Homo sapiens: one gene and its partner. The main gene of each other region encodes a partner of the protein of the gene in region 2 in a complex. Each region holds a gene or a part of one and is shown on either strand. Other genes may lie near its edges. The genes, in order: EP300 and MITF.

What was found.
Region 1: the proteins of MITF (region 2) and EP300 are in contact, whole or in part, in an NMR structure (PDB 8E1D), measured with the Homo sapiens proteins. Residues at the interface, in NP_001341533.1 of Homo sapiens: Val226, Ile230, Leu233, Glu234, Ser235, Tyr237, Asn238, Glu239, Glu240, Ile241, Asp246; in NP_001420.2 of Homo sapiens: Ala1723, Ser1726, Pro1727, Gly1728, Arg1731, Ser1734, Ile1735, Pro1780, Lys1783, Gln1784, Ala1787, Leu1788, Lys1794.

Annotation. Positions count from the first base shown.
Region 1 is NC_000022.11:41,151,551-41,160,168, forward strand, and holds part of EP300 (histone acetyltransferase p300), read left to right. Parts: intron 1-282; coding exon 283-462; intron 463-655; coding exon 656-800; intron 801-3,444; coding exon 3,445-3,563; intron 3,564-5,618; coding exon 5,619-5,858; intron 5,859-6,861; coding exon 6,862-6,950; intron 6,951-8,618. UniProt on the Homo sapiens protein: Functions as a histone acetyltransferase and regulates transcription via chromatin remodeling. Acetylates all four core histones in nucleosomes. Histone acetylation gives an epigenetic tag for transcriptional activation.
Region 2 is NC_000003.12:69,922,511-69,940,030, reverse strand, and holds part of MITF (microphthalmia-associated transcription factor), read right to left. Parts: intron 3,440-17,520; exon of another isoform or gene 3,309-3,439; coding exon of another isoform or gene 3,276-3,308; intron 2,210-3,275; coding exon 1,982-2,209; intron 1,680-1,981; coding exon of another isoform or gene 1,665-1,679; exon of another isoform or gene 966-1,664; intron 934-965; coding exon 850-933; intron 1-849. UniProt on the Homo sapiens protein: Transcription factor that acts as a master regulator of melanocyte survival and differentiation as well as melanosome biogenesis.

The DNA of each region.
Region 1 (8,618 bases), on a different chromosome or scaffold from region 2:
TTGAAATCCCCACACACTGCCAGATAATGATAGTTATCAATGAAATAGTTGCTGGTTCTTTGATGTACAATCAGCCAACCAGTATTTACAAGTCTTAATTCTCCTGTTCTTAAGCATAATTAAGGGAGGTGAAATGGGCAGAGCAAATGAAAGCACCATGAATAAATATAAGCCAAGAAATAGGTGGCTAATTCTGCTATCCTGTTGCTTACCTTACATTCTGATTGTATCGTTGGCAGACTCTGCGTGTGTCTCACCTACTTCCCTTTTTTTTCTGCCCAGCTTTCCCAGCCAGCTGTAAGCATTGAAGGACAGGTATCAAATCCTCCATCTACTAGTAGCACAGAAGTGAATTCTCAGGCCATTGCTGAGAAGCAGCCTTCCCAGGAAGTGAAGATGGAGGCCAAAATGGAAGTGGATCAACCAGAACCAGCAGATACTCAGCCGGAGGATATTTCAGAGGTGAGAGTAGGGCAATTACTGTTTGATTTGGTTAGGACCTCAGTATAGGAACCCAAGTTTTAAAAAATATTGCAGAAAAATATTTTGATAATTAGATCTCATGGCATAGATTTTGCATGAGAAAGGGTGTTCAGATTACTGATTCCCAACTAGATATCTTTGGAATACTAAAAATTCTTACGTTTTCTTTTAGTCTAAAGTGGAAGACTGTAAAATGGAATCTACCGAAACAGAAGAGAGAAGCACTGAGTTAAAAACTGAAATAAAAGAGGAGGAAGACCAGCCAAGTACTTCAGCTACCCAGTCATCTCCGGCTCCAGGACAGTCAAAGAAAAAGAGTGAGTCTCTGAAGCCATTCGTTCTGGAGGTAGCTGAAGAAACCAAAGACCCAGGGCAGAATTGCGGTCATGCCTCTTGGGCCTCAGAAGTTGCCATTATTGTGATTTCATTAACCTGGAAGCCCTGGGCCTGGTCTCTTCATTGTTACTAATAATTTTTCTTTCTTTTTTTTTTTTTTAATATTCACTTGCAGCAACCAATGAGTTAAGTCATTCCCCTCATTTCTTCAGGGTTCCCTGTGTTAGTACACCCTAAAAATTGTCTCATTTTTCAGGAGAGAGAAATGTTTGTAAATAGCCTTGACTAAAATGCAGGAAAGAATAGCAATAGTAATAGCATTTGTCATTCACCTGCTGTGTGCTAAGTATCCACATTGTCTCATTTAATAATTTCTTTCTTTCTTTTTCTTTTCTTTTTTGTTTGGAATCGGATTCTCACTTTTGTTGTTCAGGCTGGAGTGCAGTGGCGGGATCTGAGCTCACTGCAACCTCCACCTCCCAGGTTCAAGCGATTCTCCTGCCTCAGCCTCCCGAGTATCTGGGACTGCATGCGCATGCCACCATGCCCGTCTAATTTTTGTATTTTTAGTAGAGACAGGATTTCACCGTGTTGGCCAGGATGGTCTCGATCTCTTGACCTGGTGATCCACCCGCTTCGAGCTCCCAAAGTGCTGGGATTACAGGCATGAGCTACCACACCCGGCCTCATTTAATAATTTCACAACAGCTCTGAGGTTATTGGCCTGAAGCTTAGCAAAGTTAAGTAACTTTCCACAGGTTACTCAGCTGACCCTACTGCCTGGGCCAGGAAGCAGACCCAGGCAGTCTGAGGCAGAGTGCTCAAATCCAGCCATTCCAACAAGTGTTAATTGACTATTTTAGGACTAGAACTTTTGTGGCTCTAGTGATCTGCAAAAGGCACCAGGTAGGACATACCTGAGGAGTGAGTCTGCTGGCTCTTACAGATGATATATATTGAAAAGTGTTCCATTAATACAATGTGTTGTAAAATGTTGGGATTAAAAAATTATTTTCATTTTAAAAATAAGACTTGTATATATTGAGGTGTTTTAATATGGGCTGTAACAAACCCAGTCTTACTATTGGCAATCTCTCTTTAAAATGTGTGTTCCCTCATGCCTGTAATCCCACCGCTTTGGGAGGCCGAGCGGGCAGATCACTTGAGGTCAGGAGTTCAAGACCAGCCTGGCCAATATGGTGAAACTCTGTCTCTACTAAAAGTACAAAAGTTAGCCGGGTGTGGTGGCTCTCACCCGTAGTCCCATCTACTTGGGAGGCTGAGGCAGAAGAATCACTTGAACCCGGGAGATGGAAGGAGGTTGCAGTGAGCCAAGATGGCGCCACTGCACTCCAGCCTGAGTGACAGAGAGTAATTGTCTCAAACAAATAAATAAAATAAAATGTCTAATTTCACAAGTTTATTCAAATAGTCCTTATTTTTAGCACAGCTAAATATGAGTGACAAGCATCTTCGTAGTCTGGTTTCCCCCCACTCCATGGCAACCCCCCAGAGGTGAAAATTATCTGAAGTAACAAATATACTCTACCGATGATGAAATTTTTTTTGCCAATTAAGAAAAAATAAGGCCCTTGCTGAAATTGAAAGCTTTTTAAATCACTGGCTTCTCAAAGAACTGTTTGATTCCATTTGGGACACACCAACAAATTTTTCCGGACTTTTTGGGAAATATCATTGAGAACACATTTGAACTTAATTTGATCAACTAAGTCTATTATTTTAGCAATACCATTTTTGTTCTCTCTTCTTTTAAACTTAAACCTAACATTTGTCATTAAAATAGTACATGTCTCTTTTTCTTTGGCTCTAAAATACCAAGCATTTGAACGAAGGAGTCTTCTCTTCTGTGCCCCTGACTCCTTGTAGTATAAGACAATACCTGATCTAGTCTAGTTTCTGACTTGTTAAATACTGATGTCATGAAGAAAGACTTTTCTGTTCTTGCTTGACTGCATCTCCCTCTTAACACGAGTATCTTGTGCACTCTTTTTTTTTTTTTTTTTTTTTTTGAGATGGGGCCTCATTCTGTTGCCTAGGCTGGAGTGCAGTGGCGCCATCTCGGCTCACTGCAACATCTGCCTCCCGAGTTCAAGCAGTTCTCTTGCCTCAAGCCTCCTGAGTAGCTGAGACTAGCATGCCACCATGTCCGACTAATTTTTTATATTTTTAGTAGAGACGAGGTTTCACCATGTTGGCCAGGCTGAAACTTCTGACCTCAAAGTGATCTGCCCACCTCAGCCTCCACCGTGCCTGGTCCCATGGACTCTTATTTGGCAAAGTCTCTTCATAAATTTTTAGAAGCCTTTGGATTCTGCTTCTAATTGACCGAGTCTGTCTTCACTGACTTTGTGACTGAAAAGTTAAGCTGAGGGTGAAGAGTGTTTTAAGGTGATAAGACACAATGTTTTTTAGGAGCTGTCTGAAACAAAGCGGGGCTTAGAATCTAGAATCAGTGATTGAGCCTGTAGTGATATTTCCATGGGGACAGAGTGGTTAATTTTGTTATTGATTCTTGAGATGCTTTTAGAGCTTCAGGCTGAATGATTTTTTAAAGTTCTTCTGCTTAATTGGTAACTAATTTCAAATGCACTTTTTTTTTTTAAGTTTTCAAACCAGAAGAACTACGACAGGCACTGATGCCAACTTTGGAGGCACTTTACCGTCAGGATCCAGAATCCCTTCCCTTTCGTCAACCTGTGGACCCTCAGCTTTTAGGAATCCCTGTAAGTATTTGGTGGTACTTTTGATTTTATTTTTTAATTTGATAACAGCTTTATTGAGAGATAATTCACATTCCAAACAGTATAGCCACTCATTTCAAATTTGTAATTCAGTGATTTTTTTTTTTTCCCCCTGAGACAGGGTCTTATTCTGGTTGCCTAGGCTGGAGTGCAGTGGCACGATCGTGGCTCACTACTGTCTCCACCTCCCGGGCTCAGGTGATTCTCCCACCTCAGCATCCTGAGTAGCTGGGATAACTACATTCATGTGCCACCTCACCTGGCTAGTTTTTTGTATTTTTTAGTAGAGACGGGGTTTCGCCATGTTGCCCAGGCTGGTCTTGAACGCCTGGACTCAAGCAATAGGCCCATCTCAGCCTCCCAGAGTGCTGGAATTACAGGTGTGAGCCACTGGGCCTGGCCTAATTCAGGGAGTTTTAGTATATTCACAGAGTTGTGCATGACACTTTCATTTTCATCATCTGAAAAAAATCCTTTACCATTAACAGTCACTCACTATTTTCTCCCATAGCACCCCAATCCTAGACATCACCAGACTGCATTCTGTCTCTGGATTTGTCTGTTCTACATGTTTCATTAAATTGGAACATACAGTATGTGATTCTTTGTGCCAGGACGTTCCTTAGCATAATGTTTTCAAGGTTCATCCATGTTGTAGCATGAATCAGTAGCACATACCTATTTATAGCCCAATAATATTCCATTATTTTTCTTTACCTGTTGATGAGTTGATAGACATTTAGGTTGTTTACACGTTTTGACTATTAAGATAGGACTGTAGTGAACATTGTGTGGATTTAAGTTTTTATTTCTCCTTGGTATTTACCTAGGAGTGGAATTCCTGGGTTATATAGTTTGTTTACTTTTTTGTTGTTGTTATTTGTTTTTTGTTTTTTTGAGATGGAGTTTCACTCTTGTTGCCCAGGCTAGAGTGCAATGGCGCAATCTCAGTTCACCTCAACCTCCCCCTCCCGGGTTCAAGCAGTTCTCCTACCTCTCAGCCTCCCGAGTAGCTGGGATTACAGGCATGTGCCACCATGCCCGGCTAATTTTGTATTTTTAGTAGAGATGGGGTTTCTGTATGTTGGTCAGGCTGGTCTCAAACTCCCAACCTCAGATGATCCACCCACCTCGGCCTCCCAGAATGCCCAGATTACAGGCGTGAGCCACCGCACCCGGCCACTTTCGTTGTTTCAAGAGCAATAGGTCATAGCAGAAAAAAGGACCGTGGTTAGCTTTGTTTTTAAAGTTGCCTCCATATACTAGGCTGCTGGCAGATTTCATTTGGTGGTTTTAAACTGTTACTTGGCCGGGCACGGTGGCTAACGCCTGTAATCCCAACACTTTTGGAGGCCAAGGCAGGCAGATCACTTGAGTTCAGGAGTTGGAGACCAGCCTCACCAACATGGTGAAACCCCATCTCTACTAAAAATATAAAAAGTAACTGGGCGTGGTGGTGCACGCCTGTAATCCTGGCTACTTGGGAGGCTGAGGCAGGTGAATAGTTTGAACGACCCTGGGAGGCAGAGGTTGCACTGAGCCAAGATTGCACCACTGCACTCCAGCCTGGGCAACATGTTGACAGAGACTCCATCTCAAAGGTCAAGTGCTTCCAGGGGCAAAAGCCTTTTAGGACTTTTCCTCTCTTGTATCTTGCTGTGATTTCAGATGGAACATTTTAAGTTCTGTGGGCTTAGTTTCCTCATTGTACACCCCTTCTAGTACTAAAATTTTAAATGTCTTTGACTTTACTGATCTCACATGTACTTTCATAAAGAACCTGAAGTTGCTTCAGTAGAATATCAGCCTGATGTCTAGAAAGTCCATAGTAGTTCTGTTTCTCTGCCCTTTGAGTAGTTTAATATCTCTGTAAACTAATATTTAAAGAAGTGATGGACATCAGTCACCTCTTGGGGAATATAGACAGGCCAGAAACTAAAACACTGCCTGGAAAATTAACAATGATAATGGATGATACTCCATCTCCCGTAAAAATAGTGAGACTTGAGTAATGTTTGATGTCACTTGTCTTTCTAGGATTACTTTGATATTGTGAAGAGCCCCATGGATCTTTCTACCATTAAGAGGAAGTTAGACACTGGACAGTATCAGGAGCCCTGGCAGTATGTCGATGATATTTGGCTTATGTTCAATAATGCCTGGTTATATAACCGGAAAACATCACGGGTATACAAATACTGCTCCAAGCTCTCTGAGGTCTTTGAACAAGAAATTGACCCAGTGATGCAAAGCCTTGGATACTGTTGTGGCAGAAAGGTAAGAAATGTGTTTCAGATTTGACTTTAACTTTTCTGGGATACCTAGAATAATATAGTGGTGACTGGGATAAGAGAATATCCTGCTTCTGGCTTTGACATGGCTTTTTTTTTTTTTTTTTTTTTTCCTTTTTGACAGGGTCTTATTCTCCCAGGCTGGAGTGCAGTGGTGAGGTCATAGCTCACTGCAGCTTCAACCTCCTGGGCTCAAGCAATTCTCCCACCTCAGCCTCCTGAGCAGCTGGGACTACAGCCGTACGCCACCATGCCTGGCTGATTTTTTAAATTTGTTTTGTAGAAACAGGGTCTCATGATGTTGCTCAGGCTAGTCTTGAACTCCTGGGCTCAAGCAGTCCTCCTGCCTCGGCCTCCCAAAGTGCTGGAATTACAGTCATGAGCCACCTCTCCCAGCCAACACAGTCTTTCTCTTACTGTGTGCCACAGTAGTAATATCTCTTAATATGAAATGGGCTTTCTTTAAAGGCATTTTTTCAGAGTGGCAATTGTATGGAAAAGTTGACTAATTAAATAATCAACAGACTGTTAACTCATCTGGAGTAGGGGCATTCTTATATTCACCTGTGGGTGCAGATTCCTCAGCATGTGCTGGCTTTCCTGTACATACCAATTCACATTATTGGTTTTTTGTTTTTAAAATAAGACTATGGTCTTGCTGTGTTGCCTAAGCTGGTCTGGAACTCTTGGGCTCACGCAGTCTTCCCACCTCAGCTTCTGAGCACTGCAGGCATGTGCCACCCTGCCCAGCTATTCCTGTTAGGTTCTTTGGTAAAGTGATGGAAGGATATGACTGCTAAGCCTACCTCAGCGTTTTGAAATAATGTGGTAGTAAACTGAGAATGATTTTCAGGAACTGAATTAGCCCATCATTATTAACATAAATGAGAACTAAGACACCACTGACTTCTGTTTCTGACTTGCCATTCTTACTGTTCTAGCTTGTCCTTAAGGCCTCTGTGCTTTTTAACAAATGGTTTCTTTTGCAGTTGGAGTTCTCTCCACAGACACTGTGTTGCTACGGCAAACAGTTGTGCACAATACCTCGTGATGCCACTTATTACAGTTACCAGAACAGGTAAGCTTGGCCAGGTGTGGACCATGGTCCATGTGTCCACATGTCCAGGGAGTGCATGCGGATGGGCCAGCACACATACAGTCATGGTTCATGTGTATCTTGCTTGAAGACAGCTGTATAGCACAAGTTCTGTTTTTTGCCTTCTGCCTTTGTTTGCAGAACAATAAAATTTTCTATCAGAGTAGCCTTGCATCAGTTACCTGGGTTCCTCCCAAGAGCTTGAGAAGTTAAGCAACTTTGTGAGTTGTTGGCCTAGATGGGTCTATATCCCAGGCCCCACTTCTCTTTCTACTGTGTGTTTGTTGATCACCACAGCCTGAGGCAAAACTGAGAAGATTTTTAAACTTTTAACTGAAACTCGCTAGACAGCTTTTTGGAAATATTTCCTTTTTAGATGAGGCCTATCCCTAAGTAGTTGTTATTAGAATATATGAAAACAGGATTCTGGAGTCTTTTCTTTGCCTCATATTAAGCAAATTAAAAGGAAAACCTCACATAGCTCTCTGTACCTTACTTTTCCCAACCCAGCCTTGTATGTGACAGAGGATGATTTGAGTCTAATAAACGAGGCACCTCTGCCTAATTTTCTCCTGCCCAATCAATGGCTGTAATCACATAAATCTCATTCACTAATCTATCTTAACCACAATTTGTCTCCTGTTTTCAGTGATCAGCTACAAGTATAGCTTGCATTGGGTGTTTATTTGGGGCTCTGATACAATAATAACAAGGCTGGATGATATTAATACCCTTTATTTGTTTGTTAATACCAAATCCATGGTGTTGGTTTTTGCTGAACTTGTGTGTTGCAGATGCATTTCTAGCTTTGAAAAGTCACTTAAACTTTTTCTTTTATTTACAAAAAGTTAGGCGTGCTTCTAATGCTTTGTAGACCTAATGCTTTGATTTTGCAGTGAGTAAAAATCTAGCTCTTTACTCATTTGAAACCTAGAAAAGGTGGGACTCAAGTTGTTATAAGTACCTTATGTTTAAAAAAGCAAGTAACTGGACATGAAACTTTTCTCATGTTTACTAAAACAGTAGTCTAAAGTGTTTATCTTTGCACCAAGCCATCTTTAATCAGGTACCTGCACACATCATTTCCTTTTGAAATGTATCACTTGATGGCTGTAGTCAGTATTTAACTGCTTGTGCAGGCTTTTCAATAAACAGTTTTTTTTCTTTCTTTGTTGAGACAGGGTCTCACTCTGTCACTCAGGCTGGAGTGCAGTGGCGCAATCTTAGCTCACTGCAACCTCTGCCTCCCGGGTTCAAGCGATTCTCCTGCCTCAGCCTTCCAAATAGTTGGGATTACAGGTGTGTGCCACCATGCCTTGCTTATTTTTGTATTTTTAGTAGAGACAGGGTTTCAGCATGTTGGCCAGGCTGGTCTCGATCTCCTGACCTCAGATGATCCACCCTCTCAGCCTTCCAAAGTGCTAGGATTATAGGTATGAGCCACCACGCCTGGCAATGGTTGTTTTAGATTATTGTTTTCTGCAGTTGTATCTATAGTGGGCTTTTGGGGTGGGGGGTGGGGGTCTGTGGTTTTTTGTTTTGTAAGTGGGAAGAGGTGTGATTCCTGTATTTAGGTAATGAGTAGCAGTTCTTCTCTCCCTGGTATATTTATCCTTCTTCCTCCTTTTGATTATTTACATCACATAGCGT
Region 2 (17,520 bases):
AAAGAATAATTGGCCAGTTTTGAATAACTACTATCCACTGTTTGTTAGGTTCCATTTCTATTGACACCACTTTTATTTGTTTTGTTTGTCTTTAAGAGATGATTTTCTAATTGAGTTGGTAAATATGCAAATAGGCTAGGAAACTTATGAACAACATTTCCTTGCCACTTTTAATTTTGTTCTTAGAAAAATAAAATTAGTGGGCTTGATGTAATAGCATTTTTAAAATATTTTTTTCTCTTATGACAAAAATAATGCAAGTTGATGACAGGAAACATAGAAAGGCAACAAATTTTGTTGCTTATCATTCTCTCCTATATCTATATACATGCATAGATATATAAATAGATATAGCATAATTTATATATCCATTAAATAGGATGTAGTAGAAGAAACTTTAGTTATTTGGGAAAGCATCCATTATATGTTATTAAATTAATATAGTTTCAAAATGTATGTTCCATGAGATTCCATTTAGGAAACAATATCTAGATTATACACACACATCTTGGTTTTACTAATACAAAAATTGCTAACCTACAAATTTGTATAACATATATGGATTATGTTAAAGTACATATTTCATATCTTATTAAAATTTATGTACTTTAAGAAGTTTTTAATCTTTGCAGCAACTTAGGGGAAAAACACATTTTAGTTTATTCTCCCTTGTCATTATTTAATCATGAGATACTATGAGGAAAATGGCAATGTTCCTAGCTTTCTCTATAAAAAAAAAAAAAACAATGGGGGAAAAAAATGCTTAAGTTTTCAGGAAGGTGTGATCCACCACAAATATAGATTCTCATTACAAAGTGTTCATCCTCAGGCTGCCAAGTCATTCAGTACCTGCATACAGGACGCTCGTGAATGTGTGTTCATGCCTGGGCACTCGCTCTCTGCCCTGTTTTGCTCTTCAAACTTATAAAATCCCTGCAAAAACACAAGCAAAAACAGTCTATAACTTGGATTTGCAAATGACTTTTTAATGACCTGTTCACACAAAGCTGATGGCACAGCAACAAGATGAACTAAGCTTTCAAACAAAGTGGAATCTGACCAAAAGATGAAATAATGAAGGAAGAACTTGTGTCAAATCATCTTGCTAGATGACAAATTTGGGTAGAGAAAAATAAAGCAGTTGGTTTGGGCATAGGGGCAAAGATTTTAGTCCCTCTAGAAATTAAAATCAATCCAACTCTAGAAAAGTTGCCTCCGAATTTGCATAAACACTTCATAGTCCATAGTACGGTAAATCCCATTGAGATGAAGCTCATCATCTCATAATTTGGAAATAATGAGCATTAAATCACAGCTCTCAGGTATTTGTATGCTGCAAATTTTGATGCACCAATTAGCTTGAAGGTAGTTTGAGTCTTGTTTCCAATCCAGCCTTCACCAAAGCAGATTTAACGGGCAGTGGCAATTTTATTATGAAACAGAATGTATCCAGCAATTAAACCTTTGCGTTTCCGTTAAAGTCTCATGTGCTATATGATTCAAATCCATCCATGCATATTCCATTCTTTCTTCCCCCAACTCAGGGAGAAATAAAAATAATATTCCAGACATTCACAACAAGCGGAACTTCTAAACAGCATGTCCCACACCTCTTCTATTTTTGCTTTTCCTTTTCCACCTCCCCTTCTCCTCTCTCTGCATTCTCACTGCTTCATAAACTGAAAGGCATGGAAGAGAAGAGAGCACTCAGCTAAGGAAGAAGAAGCAAGTGGCAAAAGTGTCCTCGCCTCCACATTTCACTTGGAGAGGGCCAGGTCTCCCGTCATGTGCTCTACACCCAATAACCCAGCGATGGAGACAACAGGCTGGAATGCCACAGCCACGATGGTGAATCGGGGACAAAGGCTGGTAAATGTGGCCACAAGGACAAACTAGAGTCCACAGTTAAGTGTGGGAATCATATTCAACAGACAAGTTATTTAGCATAAGAAAACAGGAGAGGAGAGGAGACATGAATTACCTCTTTTTCACAGTTGGAGTTAAGCGTAAGCATAGCCATGGGGCTGTTGGGTGCGCTGCTCCCCGGCACCGGTGGCATGACATGATCGCCAGGCTGGTTTGGACATGGCAAGCTCAGGACTTGGTTGGCATGTTTATTTGCTAAAGTGGTAGAAAGGTACTGCTTTACCTGCTGCCGTTGGGCTTGCTGTATGTGGTACTTGGTGGGGTTTTCGAGGTGGGTCTGCACCTGAACATAGCCATGGAGGGAAAAGAAAACAGCGCTGTTATTTGTGAGTTTCAGACGGCTCTTCCTTCAGGCACAAACATGAAACTGACCAGGCCACCAACAGAATAAATTATTAAGCCTTTGTTATGTACCAGGCACTGTGCTAACGGATTTTGATATTACTGAAGTTTAAAGTCTAACTAGTAGGATTTGGTGTAATACTTTGCCCTATTTTATTTCCCTGCTAATTAACTATACGTCTCTTTCAAACCTTGTATCCTTCTTCTCATATCTAATAATTAAAAGTTTGAAATTATCTTAGGGCAAAAATTTCCCCAACACACATGAAAGGGTTTATTAAGATCAAACAACAATGTAGAAGTGGCATAATTGTTTGTTTCACTTTCCTTGGCGAACAGAACAGCTTTCTTTTTAAAACACACACACACACACACACACACACACACACACACACACCTCCTTAAGAACCAACTGTGTAAAATGGCTGTAGAAAATAAATATAAATCTTCCAATGATTAAATCAACTAGTTGTGGATTAATTCTCCCACTTTTCATTTGGACATGATTATTCAACATTGTAATTAAGAAAAAACTCAACATAAAAAGCAATTCTACATTAAGTAGTTTCTTTCAAATGCATAACACTTACACGTATGTGTTTTAAAAGACATGACTATTAACAAGCCAACAGGATGTTTTTTCTCCTTTCCTACAGACATTAATTCAGAACGAGAAATACTTTTCCCCAAAAAACAACATTATTCAATTTTAAGTCACTTTTTTCTTGATAAAGACAATTTAATCTTATGAGCAATGAACAGGAGCTGATGAAGATAGTTTAGCCACACACTAGGCCAAAAAAAAAAAAAAAAAAGAATCCTACTAATATTTACTTTGTTCAAAACTACATTGAATTACTTCTTATGGCATCAAATAATAAACAGCATTAAAAGAGCAGATTTATACTTATTGAAAACAGTATGTCTATTACAATAACAAAAAGTGGATTAAATCAATTTATTGCATTATATTTCAAAGACTGAATATGAGTCAGAATAAATCTCACCTGATAGTGATTATATTCTAGCATTTCCAGCATAACAATGTTTTAGGTGGCACCAATCCAGTGAGAGACGGTAGACTATCCCTCCCTCTACTTTCTATAATTCCAATTTGAAGATGGACTGGCAAAGAGAAGGTACTATAAACAAGGTATCCCGAGACACCACCGGAAACTTTATCACAGAAGCCCTGCTTATAATAACCTAAGCTAATTAGTTATGCATGTAAAAAAAAACGTTCACATAAGGGCCTTTTTTTTGGAAGCCCTACGAGTTTGGTCTTAAATGTTGATATCAATTTTTCCCCCTGGCTTGACGTCATGCTTTTTTTCATAAATATAAAAGAACCTTTTTAAGTGACGAGCTATCAAAGTCAAACTCACTGTCAGATCAAGGCCAATTCACTATTCATCTTTAGTTCCAGTAGTATTAATAGACAATGGTATTTCTCTTTCAGCAATAGGTTAATAGCAGAATGCCCCTTTGGAGGAGACATCATCTAAAAGCTACTATTACATGAGACTTTTCCAATGGCCGAATAACTGCCACTTCCGACTGCAGGATGACTATCTTTTAGTATAGAAGAGAAGAGACTCTGTGCTGAATGTTCAAGTTCAACAGCCTCTTCTTGCATCCTGGTCTTAATATGCACCTTATTCTTAGCTACATAGATGTGTAACCTGCCTATTGACCTCACATCAGGAAGACCGGGCACTATCCTAAATAGAACATAGCACACACAGAAGTGGATATATATTTATGTGGATAATAAGAAATAAATATCTCCCCTATTTAATTCTCAAATGAAAAAAGCATGAGCATTTTTGCTGAGAATTTTTACATATTATTCTTAAGATTACAGAAGAATGAGTTATCATATACAACACTGATATATTTACATATTTATTCCTTTATTCATTCATTATTGACTGTTAAGTGCTAAACACTGTACAAAGCATAGAATATACATTGTGAACAAACAGATATAGTTTCCAGCTTTATGAAACTTATATTCTGGGGTGAGGCAAAAAAAGAAAAGAGGCAAGCAAATATATACTTATAAATTATGATAAATGCTTAATATCTACTGCTGACAAATGTTATGTTAAGCTAAAAATTTGAAGTTCAATAATGTTGTCTAAATGCCCAGGATAATGCAGTCCGTTAGGTTGACAATCTCATATTGTTTCAAATGACTGATTTAATATGTACACAGAGGTTCACAGAGATTTTTTTTTTATAAAGGGTCCAGACATGATAATGATGACAGTAGACATTACTAAAATAAACATAAAATGAGGGCAATGAGTAGAATGTGCTTATTTCACTATTACACTTAAAAAGAAAAGAGATTCATGTTTAAAAATAAATGTTAATTCACTGGCAGATCCTAATTCTTTAATGAATCAGAATATTATGCTTTAGTAAAGAAAGAAGCAATTTGCTTTCTATGTGGCACTGTCAGTGAGGTCTTTATTACATCCAGGTTTGGGTAAGCAGAATGGGATATATTTGGCTCTTTTACTGTTAATAACTTTTTATTTTTCACGTAAGTTGAAAGCAGATGGCCTATAAACACTATGCAGTAGACAGAACATCTCCAGCTGTTTCTAACCCAAATACCTCAAACAGGCAACATAAATGAGGAACATGAGCTACGAGGAAGGTAATAAGGAGTAGTGAGGTCTGTGGCAAACCAGAGGACACACATCTATCTAGCAGGAACAGCAGATAAAAACTGCAGCTGATTGTGGCCATGTGGGAATATGAGTCCAGCCTAGCTCAAAATCTCCAAATTTTTCAAGGGTAGCTGGCAATCCAAACTTCTTTTTTAAGTAAAATCCTCCAGGTTTAAAGATCCGATGCTCAACTGTTTTGTGTTTCACAGAGTACAAGCCTCGGCCCACAAACTACTAGAAAATAATCTCTATTTTACACTGTCTATAAGGATAATCTTCATATTTACATTCCCTTGGAGATAGCCTAGGTTATGGGAAGAAGTTTCTCTTCTGAGAAATTAGTCCAAATCCAGGCATTTCCTGGTGCTTCTTTGAAAGACAATGTGCCTGACAACACAGACAGTGGAGTTCTTAACTTGAAACCTGGGTTCAGATTCTATCTTTGCAACTTAACAACCCGTGTACCTTCTGCAATTCATTAACTTCTCCAGGCCCTCATCTCCTAGCATATTGAATGGGAATGACAGTAGAGCTTGCCTCATATGTGTGTTTTCTGCATTAAATGAGATCATGTTTCTAACGGCCTTAGCACAATATCTAAAACAGCAATTCTCAAACATTTTTGTCTTAGGATCCTTTTACACTCTTTAAATTTATTGTGTTTACATGGATTATATCTATCAATATTTAGCATATTAGAAATTAAAATTGAGAATTTTTGAAAACACACGATTATACATTAGTAGATATCTCACAGGATGTCAGAACAATGACATCTCAACACGACATGTAGCCTTCGGAAAACTCTATTGTTTACTGGTGAAATGAGAGTGAAAAAGGAAAACAATATCTTAGTGTTATTCTGAAATAGTCCAGATCTGGCAGAACTCCTGCAAGGGTCTTAGATACAACCAGGGCCCTCTGATCACACTTTGAGAACCCCTGATCTAGAATGTGGTTGGCATTCTAGCATCATCACTGCACCAGCAATGTCACTCCCCACTGTGGACAGGTGGTGTGTGACATAGCCTCTCTATGTTTACTTCCCTCCCTGAGAAGATGCTGGAGAAAGATACTAACCCTGTCCAAACTCCCTCATAGCATTATTATGAGGCTCTATAGCCCTTTGACAACTTAAAAAGCCATATAAATATAATTTTCTGTCTTCAGCCACCCTAATTCATAGCTTTTTAGTCAATAACTTTGCTTTCATTAATTTTTAAATAGCCAAAGAAGTATGCAAATGAGAACATATATGTAGCATTAAAGAGGACAGAAACATCTTTATGATTTCCTGATAATGTTTGCATGTTTTTGACTTTCCAGATGACTAACCACACTAAGAAATTCAGATAGCAAAAGTTGAGTACTGCTGAACACCTGAAGTATAGACAGCAAAATAAAGCTAGAATACTTTATCATAAAATATTATTTATTGATATAACTTATATTTCATATAAATTATGCTAGCTATCTGAGTTAAAGGGCAAACACCCAAAGGCTTTGTAACTTTTATTCATTGTTAGCACTCCTGTAATTTCACCTGTTTCCTTTCTTCATTCAGATCTTGAATGGATAGCAAGAGAATCGGAATGGATCACCTCCTAACTGTCACACTTCAGCTTTACCACTTCCTGGGTAAAACTGACAGGTTATTTTCCATCAGTTTCATTCTAAAGAGATCCTGGAGCACATCACATGTCAGTTTAAGATGGTAGCTATAGATACTACCATCTTGGCTGACAACAGAATTTACTGGGGAAGAAATATCCCTATCTAGATATCCACTATTCTTCTATTCTCTCTACTATTTGTAAACCAGAATTCAAGTAGAAGCGAGTGTAGATTTTCTTAATCCTTTTAGTTTATTTATTTATTTATTATATTTTTAGAGATAAGGGTCTTGCTATGTTGCCCAGGCTGGAGTGCAGTGGCTATTCACAAGTGCAATCATGGCACACTACAGCCTTGAACTCCTGGGCTCAAGTGATCTTCCCACTTCAGCCTCCTGAGTAGCTATGACATGCTTCTACACTCAAATGGCTTTATATATATATATTTTTAATAATTCAACAAAATGTTCAGATTTATCACTTATGTTTAGAGAGATAATTTGTTCTTTTGCTCAGCAAGTTTAAAGAAAACTAAAGGGATTACCCTTTAATCAATTGTTATCTATCACCACACCACTATTCTTTTCATACTGTTTTAAAAATGGCAATCCATAGAGAATGTCAGTTATGCAATCATATTTCCTGAAAAAAGCGGTAAAACAGAGAAAGCTAGCTTTCTTAAATAACTAGGATAGTCTTGCAAAAGGTCACATCTGATTAAGTGTCGAGGTTCTTTTCAGTCCCACAATTACATTACCACAAAAGAAAACAAAAGCCCAGAACATATATCCTTGGACATATAATCTTGTTTACTGTACAATCTGTACAAAGCTGTCCTTAACAAAAAGTAAAAACAACAAGGGTATGAATCCTGGCCTAAGGGAGAAGAATCAAAATCAGATGCAAATACAAAGCAAACCAAAGAGTCTTAAATAAAGAAAGGTTCGAAATGGCTATGGTTGACAAACCCAGTGCTTTTTCTCTACAACAGGAGTCTGTCCACCCATCAGCCCAACTCGGTCTGCTGCCTGTATGGTCTATAAAGTAAGAATGGATTTTACATTTTTAAATAGTTGAAAAAAAATGAAAAGAAGAATATTTCATGACACATGAAAATTATATAAAATTCAGATTTCAATGTGGATAAATAAAGTTTTATCAGAACACAGCCACACCCATTAGTTGACATGTTGTCCAGGGCGGCTCCCTTGCTGCAATAGCAGATTTGAAGAGTAGCAACAGAGTCTGCAGGGCCCCCAAGGCCTAAAATTATCTACATTGTGGCTTTTTATAGAAAATGCTGACCCCTGCTCTCTAGGAAAGTTTCACCAAACTAGAATTGAACTTTCCTACTCAACAGAAGTTTTAGCAGGATTTGAAGGAAAGAATGGGGTGATTTTAATAAAGAGAAATAGTATATGTATACGTAATTTTACAGTTGTTTTTCCAACTACTGTCTTAACTGGACAAGCATCTTTGTAAGAATACAGGATATGCTTAATTACCCCCCACCCTTTTTAAAGCTAAAGAAAACAGAAACTAAGAGGAAACCTAAACAACTTGCCAGGGTTAGAAACCATAGCCATGTCTCCATTATTCTGTCCGCAGAGGCGAACTAGAGAAGCTCCCTCTTCTGTGGGTCAGTTCTGATCTAGGACTTTAACTGAATAAGAAGGGAAGATAAAACTGTGTAAATCCAGGGGTGTATTCCAGGTGCATATTCCAGGTGCATATCCCAGGTGTGCACAAATAAATATATATACATTTATATCACATATTTATGGGTCTGTATACTTTCATACTACTTCCTGTCTTATTACATTGTAGGCTTCTGAATTCAGAGAATTGAGCTGTAAATATGTATAAAAGAAAAGGATAACAAATGTACTTTTCTGAAAATTTGATGTTAAAACAGAATAGACTAGACTAGCCCTATCAAAAATTCCCAGCAAGTCTTTTATCCTTAGCTAATGACCTATAAAACAGTATGCTTATTATAAACCACAAGACAGGCATACTTTGGTTTTAGGACAAACAATATTTAGTAGCCTCAGAAAAAAGGTGTTATCATAAGAAAATCCCTAATATATACATTATTTTTTTCTCCCTCAGGCTAAAATAAGCCAAAGACCATGATAATAAAAAGAACATGTGGTTTTATCTCAGCCGAATAGAAGAGAAAACCATTTCTCTTAAATGAGGGTCTTATAAGACATTATGAGTGGATATGTTACATTATATAGCACGATGTTTTAAAATATAAAGAACGGAATTAGTGCTCATTCTCTCAAACTTGTCTACCATGTACCAGATGCCATGCATTTTACATGCGCTCCTAGCTTATGTCAATTCAAAGTAAAAGTAAGAAAGATATGTGGAATAACCACATAAAATAAAAGTAAAAAAGATAGGGGGATAATCACATAAAATATTCTTGAAAGTCTCGACACAGTTTTCTTTTGCTTTTAAACTGTATCATAGCTTTCTGATTGAATACAGAAACAACCACTGAAGATATTTGATTTTGATTGTTTTAACTTCTTACTTTGAGTTGTTCCCATCTGAGAGAGTATACTCAATTGTCCTCTTGACATTCATAGAAAATTAAATACAGGACTGGGAGCAAATGTTAATGTGTACACAAATCACTGGAGGATCTTGTTAAATGCAGAGTGTGATGCCACAAGTCTGGGCTAGAGCCCAAGATTTCTGCATTTCTAACAAGTTGCCAGGGGATGCTGACCCAGCCGGTCCAGGGAACACACTACATCCCGAGCAGCAAGGCTTTCATATGTTCTCACCTGGACTGCTGCCTTCATCAAAAGTTATATGTTCACCATTCAATCAACAAATATTGCTTGAGCACCAACTAGATGCCAGGCAACTGTGCAAATCTTACACAGTGTGTTTAGGTAAGGGCCTCACAGAGTATGACATTGACGCCCAGACCTGAAGTTGGTGAGATGAGCCAGGCAGATTGGCAGGAACGGCATTCCAGCCAAGCATACAGCCCTCAGGTGTGAACAAGCCTTGGTTGCTCAAAGAACAGCAAGGAGGCTCTTAATACATGTTATTTACTTGGCTTTCGATTTACCACACTTGCCTGGTTTTTCTCTCACGTTCTTCATTTCTTCTCACTCTCCTTAGCTAGTTTTCTCCTCTTCTCCCCTCTAAATGTCAGAGTGCCTCAAGGATCCGAGCTTGATTTCATCTATCTACACTCCCAGCCCTGGTGATCGAACCCAGTCACATGGATTTAAGCACCCCAGAACAGAGGTCTCTGAGAACCAGACTCATCTCCACTGGCCTACGAGACGGCACCGTTTGGAGGACTGCAGACTCTCAAGCTCAGCATGTTCATCCACTCTTCCAAATTGGCTCCTCCCACGGTCTTCTGCATTTTCACAGTTGGCAACTCCATTTTTTTCTATTAGGTTGAAACATAGAAAATTGCCATTTTTGTTGGGGGCGGGGGTAGGTCAAAAAATGGTCTTCCTCTGGCTTAACCTAGTTGCTCATTCTACAAATCATGGTTATCTTTGACTCCTTTCTTTCATACCCTGGATCCAACCCATCAAGAAATATTGTTTCCATCTTCAGAAAATAATCAGAATATGATGGATTTTCATGCTCCACTGTTACCATCTGATCCAAGCCACCATCTCTTCAAACTTAGATGATGGAAAGCTTCCTGACTCTTCTACCTGCTTCTGTCTTGGCACTCTGACGGTGTATTTTCAATACAATGAATAGGGGGATCTTGTGATATTGTCAGATCAAGTCATTTCTCTATAGAAACTAAACCAAAACAAACAAAAAGAAAAACCCCACCTCTGTAATGGTTCCCTACTTATTTCTGAGAAAAAAAAACAAAAACAAAGTATTTGCAATGGCCTAGAAGTCCCTACATCAATGCTATTCACAGTGCTTATTAGAAATGCACATTCCAGGGCCCCAAACCAGAGCTAATGAATCAGAATCTCTGGGTATGGTGTTCAGAAATCCACACTAGCTTGTTAGTTCTCCACGTAGATTCTACAGACCCCTGTCCACTGTGCCTACTTCTCCCACTCCACCCCACCCCAGGAGCATTACCTCATTGACCTTGTCTCCTATAACTATCTTAAGGACATATTCACATATCCAGCCCACATGCTACCAGTGCTCCTGATTCTCCCTCCTCTGCTCTGCTTTGTCCAGAACACAGCTTGGCACACTGTGGGCACTCAGCAAGTATTTGGTACGTCAGTGAAGCAGTGTGGAACCACTGTGGCTGGCGTGCATGGATAAGGGGCAGAACCGAAGAACAAGGGGCCACATTGTGTAGGCAGGGGTTGTAGGCTAGGATTCTGACCACCTCTGGAAACGTCCTGAGGAAATGAAGTGTGACAGTCCCTCAGTCTTCCTAAGTTAGAAAGCTCTAGAGGAACTAAGTCTTCAGGCCAGGCAGTTGATTCACAGCCTGCCACCCTACTTCACATGATAAAGCTTCCTTATCTATCAGGGGCTGCCCAAAGATTGCCAATTCTTACAGCTCTCATCTAGCAGTACAACAAGCCAGTAGGGCCCTGTGGGTCTCAAATGACCGGCCGGAAGCCTGAGATTTGCTTTCACCTCTAGCTGTAGACCCCTAGATAAGTCACAGTTATTCCAAGGTCCCCAAGCTGGCAGTCCATGGACACAAACCACAGGCAAGTCTGTTCACCTAGACAGAATTTAGTGTTCTATGAATTTGTCACCAATGATGAAAAATTGGGAGTTTTCAACCCAAAATCTGGTTTCTCAAACCAGAGTTTGGATTTCTCTTTTCTGGTTGATAAATCAGAAGATCTAGAGATACCAAACTGCACTCCTACTGGGCCAGCAACTTATCAGAGTTGAAAAGCAACAGAGTTGAGAAGTAGCTTCTCCCTTTCAATGAGCACTTACTTTTCATTCTGCAACTCTCATCACTCTTTATTCTGACACTGACAACTGGACTACTTTATTCATTAACCCGTCTGATTCCTGAAGACTTTTAAATCTGCAAATCCTACCTTACCCATTCACACTTCATATCCCTGAACAAGGTTCCAAATCTGATAGAATGATGGTGGCGCAAGTGTGTTCAGAAAGCTACATGAAATGAACAATCTCATAGGAGAAAATAAAATAAATAGGTAGAACTGTAAAAGATAAAATAAAATAAACGGATATAAACTTTAAAAAGATACATACATGTTGCCCATGCAGCAATGGCTCTTTTCAAGAACTTTTCTAAGGAGATGATCAGATACGGGACAAAGATTTAGGTACACAGACATCTATTAGAGCATTATCTCTAACAGAAGTAGGTGGACTACTGCCTGGGGCATGCCGCCCATTTTTGTCAATAAGGTTTTATTGGAAAACATCCATACTTTCATTTAAGTATAGTCTATGGCTGCTTTCAAGCTATAACAGTACAAGAGCATAGTTGAGTAATGGACCCGACGGCCCCAAAAGTCTAAAACACTCTGTTTTTTATAGATAAAGTTTTTCAGCCATTAATTTCTAATAAAAAAATTGAAAACAAATATCTCATAGGCCATGGATTCAATTAATTATAAGGAAGCCATATAGTTCAGGCTTTCAGCCTCAGCACTATTGACACTGGAGCCAGATACTGCTTTGTTGTGGGGGTGATGTGTGAACTGCCTGCTGTCTCCCAGCATCCCTAATCTATACCCATTAGATGCCAAGTAACACAGCATGTCCCACTCCAGTTATGACAACCAAAACTGGCTCCAAACATTGCTAAATGCCTCCTGGGGACAAAACAGCCCTCAGTTGAGAACCACTACATATAAATGGATCCTATGCAGTCATTACAATCCACATTTTATCTAACAATTTTTTGTTTATTTCTTGTCTAGTACACTACATTGAATTTCATATATCAAATTTATTTTTTTTTTTACTTTAAGTTCTGGGATACATGTGCAGAACGTGCAGGTTTGTTACATAGGTATACATTTGCCATGGCGGTTTGCTGCACCTGTCAACCCGTCATCTAGGTTTTAAGCCCCACATGCATTAGGTATTTGTCCTAATGCTCTCCCTGCCCTTGTCCCCCACCCCTCAACAGGCTCCGGTGTGTGATGTTCCCCTCCCTGTGTCCATGTGTTCTCATTGTTCAACTCCCACGTATGAATGAGAACATGTGGTGTTTGGTTTTCCGTTACTGTGTTAATCTAACAATATTTAATGAGACGGAAAGTTCATTAATGTAAATGGGAACATAAAGCAGGTTAAAAACACTATACATGCTGCTATCCAAAATTGATTTTTAAATGCTATTTATATATATGCAAAGCCAAAAAAAAAAACTAATGACAAATTACTCGGTCAAGTCTCAACAATGACTATTCCCGAGCGATAAATTCTCAGTGATTGTTATTTTATTATTTTCTATAATGTACATGACACTGATTTTGTAATTTAAACAAGCTAGACATTCCATGAGAATGAAAGCCTACAGATCTGGACAAATGAAAATATATTCAGGCAGAATTCCTCTACTGAAAATTTTGCAAGCAACAAATAAACCCATGAAGGGGTTACACAATGGTGAAATTCGCCTTGTTTCAACTTTTTCTTGAACTGTTTGATCAGATGGAGAGGACTTTGTTTTTTCTGAAATTTTTGGTCTAACATTCAAGCTTGTACAGTTTGCATTTGTATAATATTTGACACATTTTTATGGTTTTTCCAAAGGCCACAATTACGTGGTTCAATAGTGCCTTTATAATGGCCCATTGTCAGGACCGTCCAGATCCCCCCCACCATGGGAGCTGCGAGTGCAGCATTCCACATGCTAGAACTTTTCCACGTGCCCCAGTTTAGCCCTGCCTCAGAATCGCAGACGTCTTTTTGTTGTACCATTTCCCCCCTCAAATGCCCCCATTGTTTGCAGTTTATCGGGTATTAGAGATGATTACAGCACAGGCAGAACAACTCCTTCTCATAAGTACCGACACTCTTAAGAAACTGGCAGTGGTCAAGTTTGTCAGAGATGAAAACATTGCCTTGGGCCTAAGCAAAAGGTCAGAAAGCCCCTAGGCAGAGATGAGAGCTGCTGAATGCTACTGGTTTGAAGGTCAAGCCCACATGAGCTAAAAACTGTCAAAAAGCAGCCATCTCCTAATAACACAACTTCAGGATCTATATCATGAGACTGAGGGTCCTTCTGGTTTTTGAGAAACTGCATTGGCTTGGGAAATTCTTAAAACTTGCCTTATAGATTATGTTATGATGAAGTTCCAGATTGGAATTAACCTCACCAACAACAGCAGCAGCTCGGCAGTGCTTTCCGACTGGGGCATGCACTGTGCTGAGAGCTTCGCATGCAGGTTTAATGTAACCATCCCCACTTAACAAACCATTCATTCATTCAACCAGGATTTACTCAGCACTCATCTAGGTGCTGAAGACTGAGCAGCAACTAAAGCACAGGCCCTGATTGCATGAAAATCATATTTAAGGTGGGGAAGCAGAGACAAACACAGAGTAATGAACCAACAAAGGAATAAGAATCTCATACAATGAGAAGTGCAATGCAGACAGTAAAAGAGAAAAAAAGGCCATTGCAACAAAGCTATTCTAGAAGCAACAAGTTGGGTGGAACCTCAATGATGAGAAGCCAGCTATGGTGAGGTACAGAAGAGATCAGATACTGAGGTAGGAAGCAGCCCAGCATATTGGATGAATAAGGACAAGATCAACAACCACAGAGCCAGCACTTTTGGAGTACTGACAAGGTCAGTGAGAGCCCTGAAAAGAATGTCTGGGCCAGATGTTGTAGGGCTTTGCAGGCCATTGAAAGGAATTTGATTTTTATTCTCTACTACTTGTAAGAAGCCATTGAGATGTTTTAATAAAGAGAATCAACATGATCTGATGAACACTTTGAAAATGCCCTTGGCTTCTTCTTGGCTTGCACTAAGTCTAATTTAAAAACAGCATAAACATTAAGAGACTTTCTTATATAATGCTCTGAAATGCCTCACGCCACCATGAAGAAGTTGTTATAAATGGTGCACACAGCTATAAAATACTCCACGTATGCCTGCTTGGGACACACAGCTAAGAATACGACCCACTGTCAGAGTAAAATGGAGAGATGCAGTTTAGTATTGTTAAACATCTGAATGGAATTTCAAATAGATCTGAGTTCAAATCCTGGGCAAGTTGCTTAAATGCTTTGGACCTCAGTTTTCTGTTTACAAAATGGGCTCATGGATCCTACCTACCTAATAGTTGCTGGAGATGCTGATAAGCTTAAGTGATGAGATGCATGAAAAGTACTTGGCACATAGTAAATGCTCAGTAAATAAATAATGTTCTCTATGATTGTTCACCTTGGAATTTTTGCTTTCACATCCAAGTGGATTAGTGTTAAATCATATAGCTCACAATCTCAAAAAAAATATAAAGCCACCAAGAAGGAGACGAGAGGACTTTAAAAGATGAAGGAAATATTCAGCCTCTTTCCTGTATCCTTTTATCTTTTTCTCTTTAGCTAACTCAAATATCATAGATGGATTGTGAGAGTAAGAGAAAAAGGGGAAAAACATGAACGTTAGAGCTGGGACACTTGCAGGCCACAGTCTCATACAGAAGGCTTTCGTGACATCTTTCCTCTCATACTTCCAAATGAGCTGGATCAGTCAGTGGTTCTCTTTAACTGGGTTTTAGGGAAATTGTAAATTCCTGAAAATTGTAAGCAAACTTTGACTGTACATTTTTCTGGGGAGAGGTTGAACAAACTACGAGACAGATTTAAAGATGAAATTATGTCTAGGATTTGCAAGTTAGAGGGAGGTATCCGTGAAACAGGATGAGCCGAGTCAATAACTCTCGAAGCTGGGTGATGGGTTACGCGAAGGGTTCATTCTATTATTCACTCTGCTTTCGTATAAATTTGAGACAACCTGTACATATTCACACAGTGCACACATATTTATGTATTTGATATTTTATTTTTATGTATTTATGTCCTCTTTCTCCATAAAAGGAAAAGTGTTATGGTAGCATGTTTACTAAGCAAGCACTTAGCACACCTATCAGCCTATTGCAAGTATCAAATATCTGCTTTTTAGCTTGCTATTCTGGACCTTCACCAGCAATTTTCTTCTAAGAGATCTGACTTGGTGTTGCATGAATTGATTATGGATTCAGGAGGATTCCTGTGATTCTTCTGTGGCGTTGCTGGCACGAGAACTCAGAGAAACATCTTGTTAACTAGCAAAATAAGCTGGATTTGCCCATGGAGTGCTCTCATTGATCTAATCAGGAATGTGTGTTTTAGCCACAAATGAAACATTTTTTAAAAAACTTGTGCAGGGGATACAGAACTGAATTCATATTGACCTTTTCAGATCAAAAAAATCATGACTACCTCTTTCAAACAAATTGGCCAATGATCTACATGGATGTCATCTAAAACACGTAATCAACTGAAACTTAAGCTTACATAGGTATTTAGGCAGAGCTTTATTTTTCCTCACTATAAAAAGTACTTTGCCAAAAAAAAACAAACAAAAACCTATGACTTATCATACTCTACAAAGCAAATTCTCAGAGATTTAAAATTTTTTGAAAATCTATAAAAATCTGTAAAGGGAGGACACACCTATACCAGGCCAATATATGTGGTTTGGATAGTCCCATTTGGATTTGTGTGATAAAAATAATGGATAATGCATATAAAGAGGAAGAGGATAGACTACTTCTTTGGAGAATATAGGTAGGAATTTTAAAGGAGGTAGGAAAATGGGAAGATATAGAGACTCCTCATAATTAGGAGAAGAATTAAAAAGTGAAAATAGGCTAGGTGTGGTGACTCATGCCTGTAATCCCAGCACTCTGGGAGGCCAAGGCAGGCCGATCACTTCAGGCCAACATGGTGAAACCCCATCTCTACTAAAAATACAAAAATTAGCCTGGTGTGGTGGTGTGTGCCTGCAGTCCCAGCTACTCAGGAGGCTGAGGCAGGAGAATTGATTGAACCCGGGAGGCAGAGGTTGCAATGAGCCAAGATCGCATCAATGCATTCCAGCCTAGGTGACAGAGCAAGACTCCATCTCCAAAAGAAAGAAAATAAAGCAATTACTGAGTGCTATGTTACAGGTAGTTTTTCTGAAAGTTTTCAATGGATTCACTTATTTAATCCTCATTACAATCCTACGAAGTAGCAGATGTTATTATCCCCATTTTCAGCATGAGGAAATTGAGGCTTACTCCTAATCACTTTATGAAACACTACCAAACTATGAGTTATTTACAGGATTCATATTTTCAACGGAATTATTTCTGCTTTTGAAACTGTTCAGAGGGCCTATGTAATCACTATTTCTTCTGAGTATTTGTTTTTGTGCTTTATTATAAATAAGGCTTCTCCTGAGAATTTGGTCCCCCGCTGGGTGGACACTGTTGTTAAACCAAAACGCTACCCAATTCCAAAGTGAACAGAATCAGCCCCTCAAGCCAGCAACGGGTCAACAAGGACAGGACCTAACAACGGAGAAAGTCAATATGGACATTTGTTCTGGGAAAACTGCCTTAGGACTTTGACTAATTTAAGGGTTGAGGGTTTGTTTCTTTCTTTCTTTCTTTGTGAGAAGGATGAGATGAGGGGGCTGGTCAGTCAGCAAACAAACAATCTTCCAGACTCAATGGCAATTTTTGTTAACCAAAGGCATCTCAGTATCATGAGATTTGTAAAGGAAAGGTTAAAATACTGTATGATATAGTAATGTCTTTTATAAGAAAGAAAATAGGCCACTGTATCACTGAAGTACCAGTTGTTACGTACTCAGTTGTGAAGCAGTAACAAAAACGGGAAGAAGAGAAATGTCAAGACTGCCCTTTTGTTAAAAACCCACTATATTATGTGGCTTGGATAAAAACAAAAACTAAAAAGCAATGGCGGCCGGGTG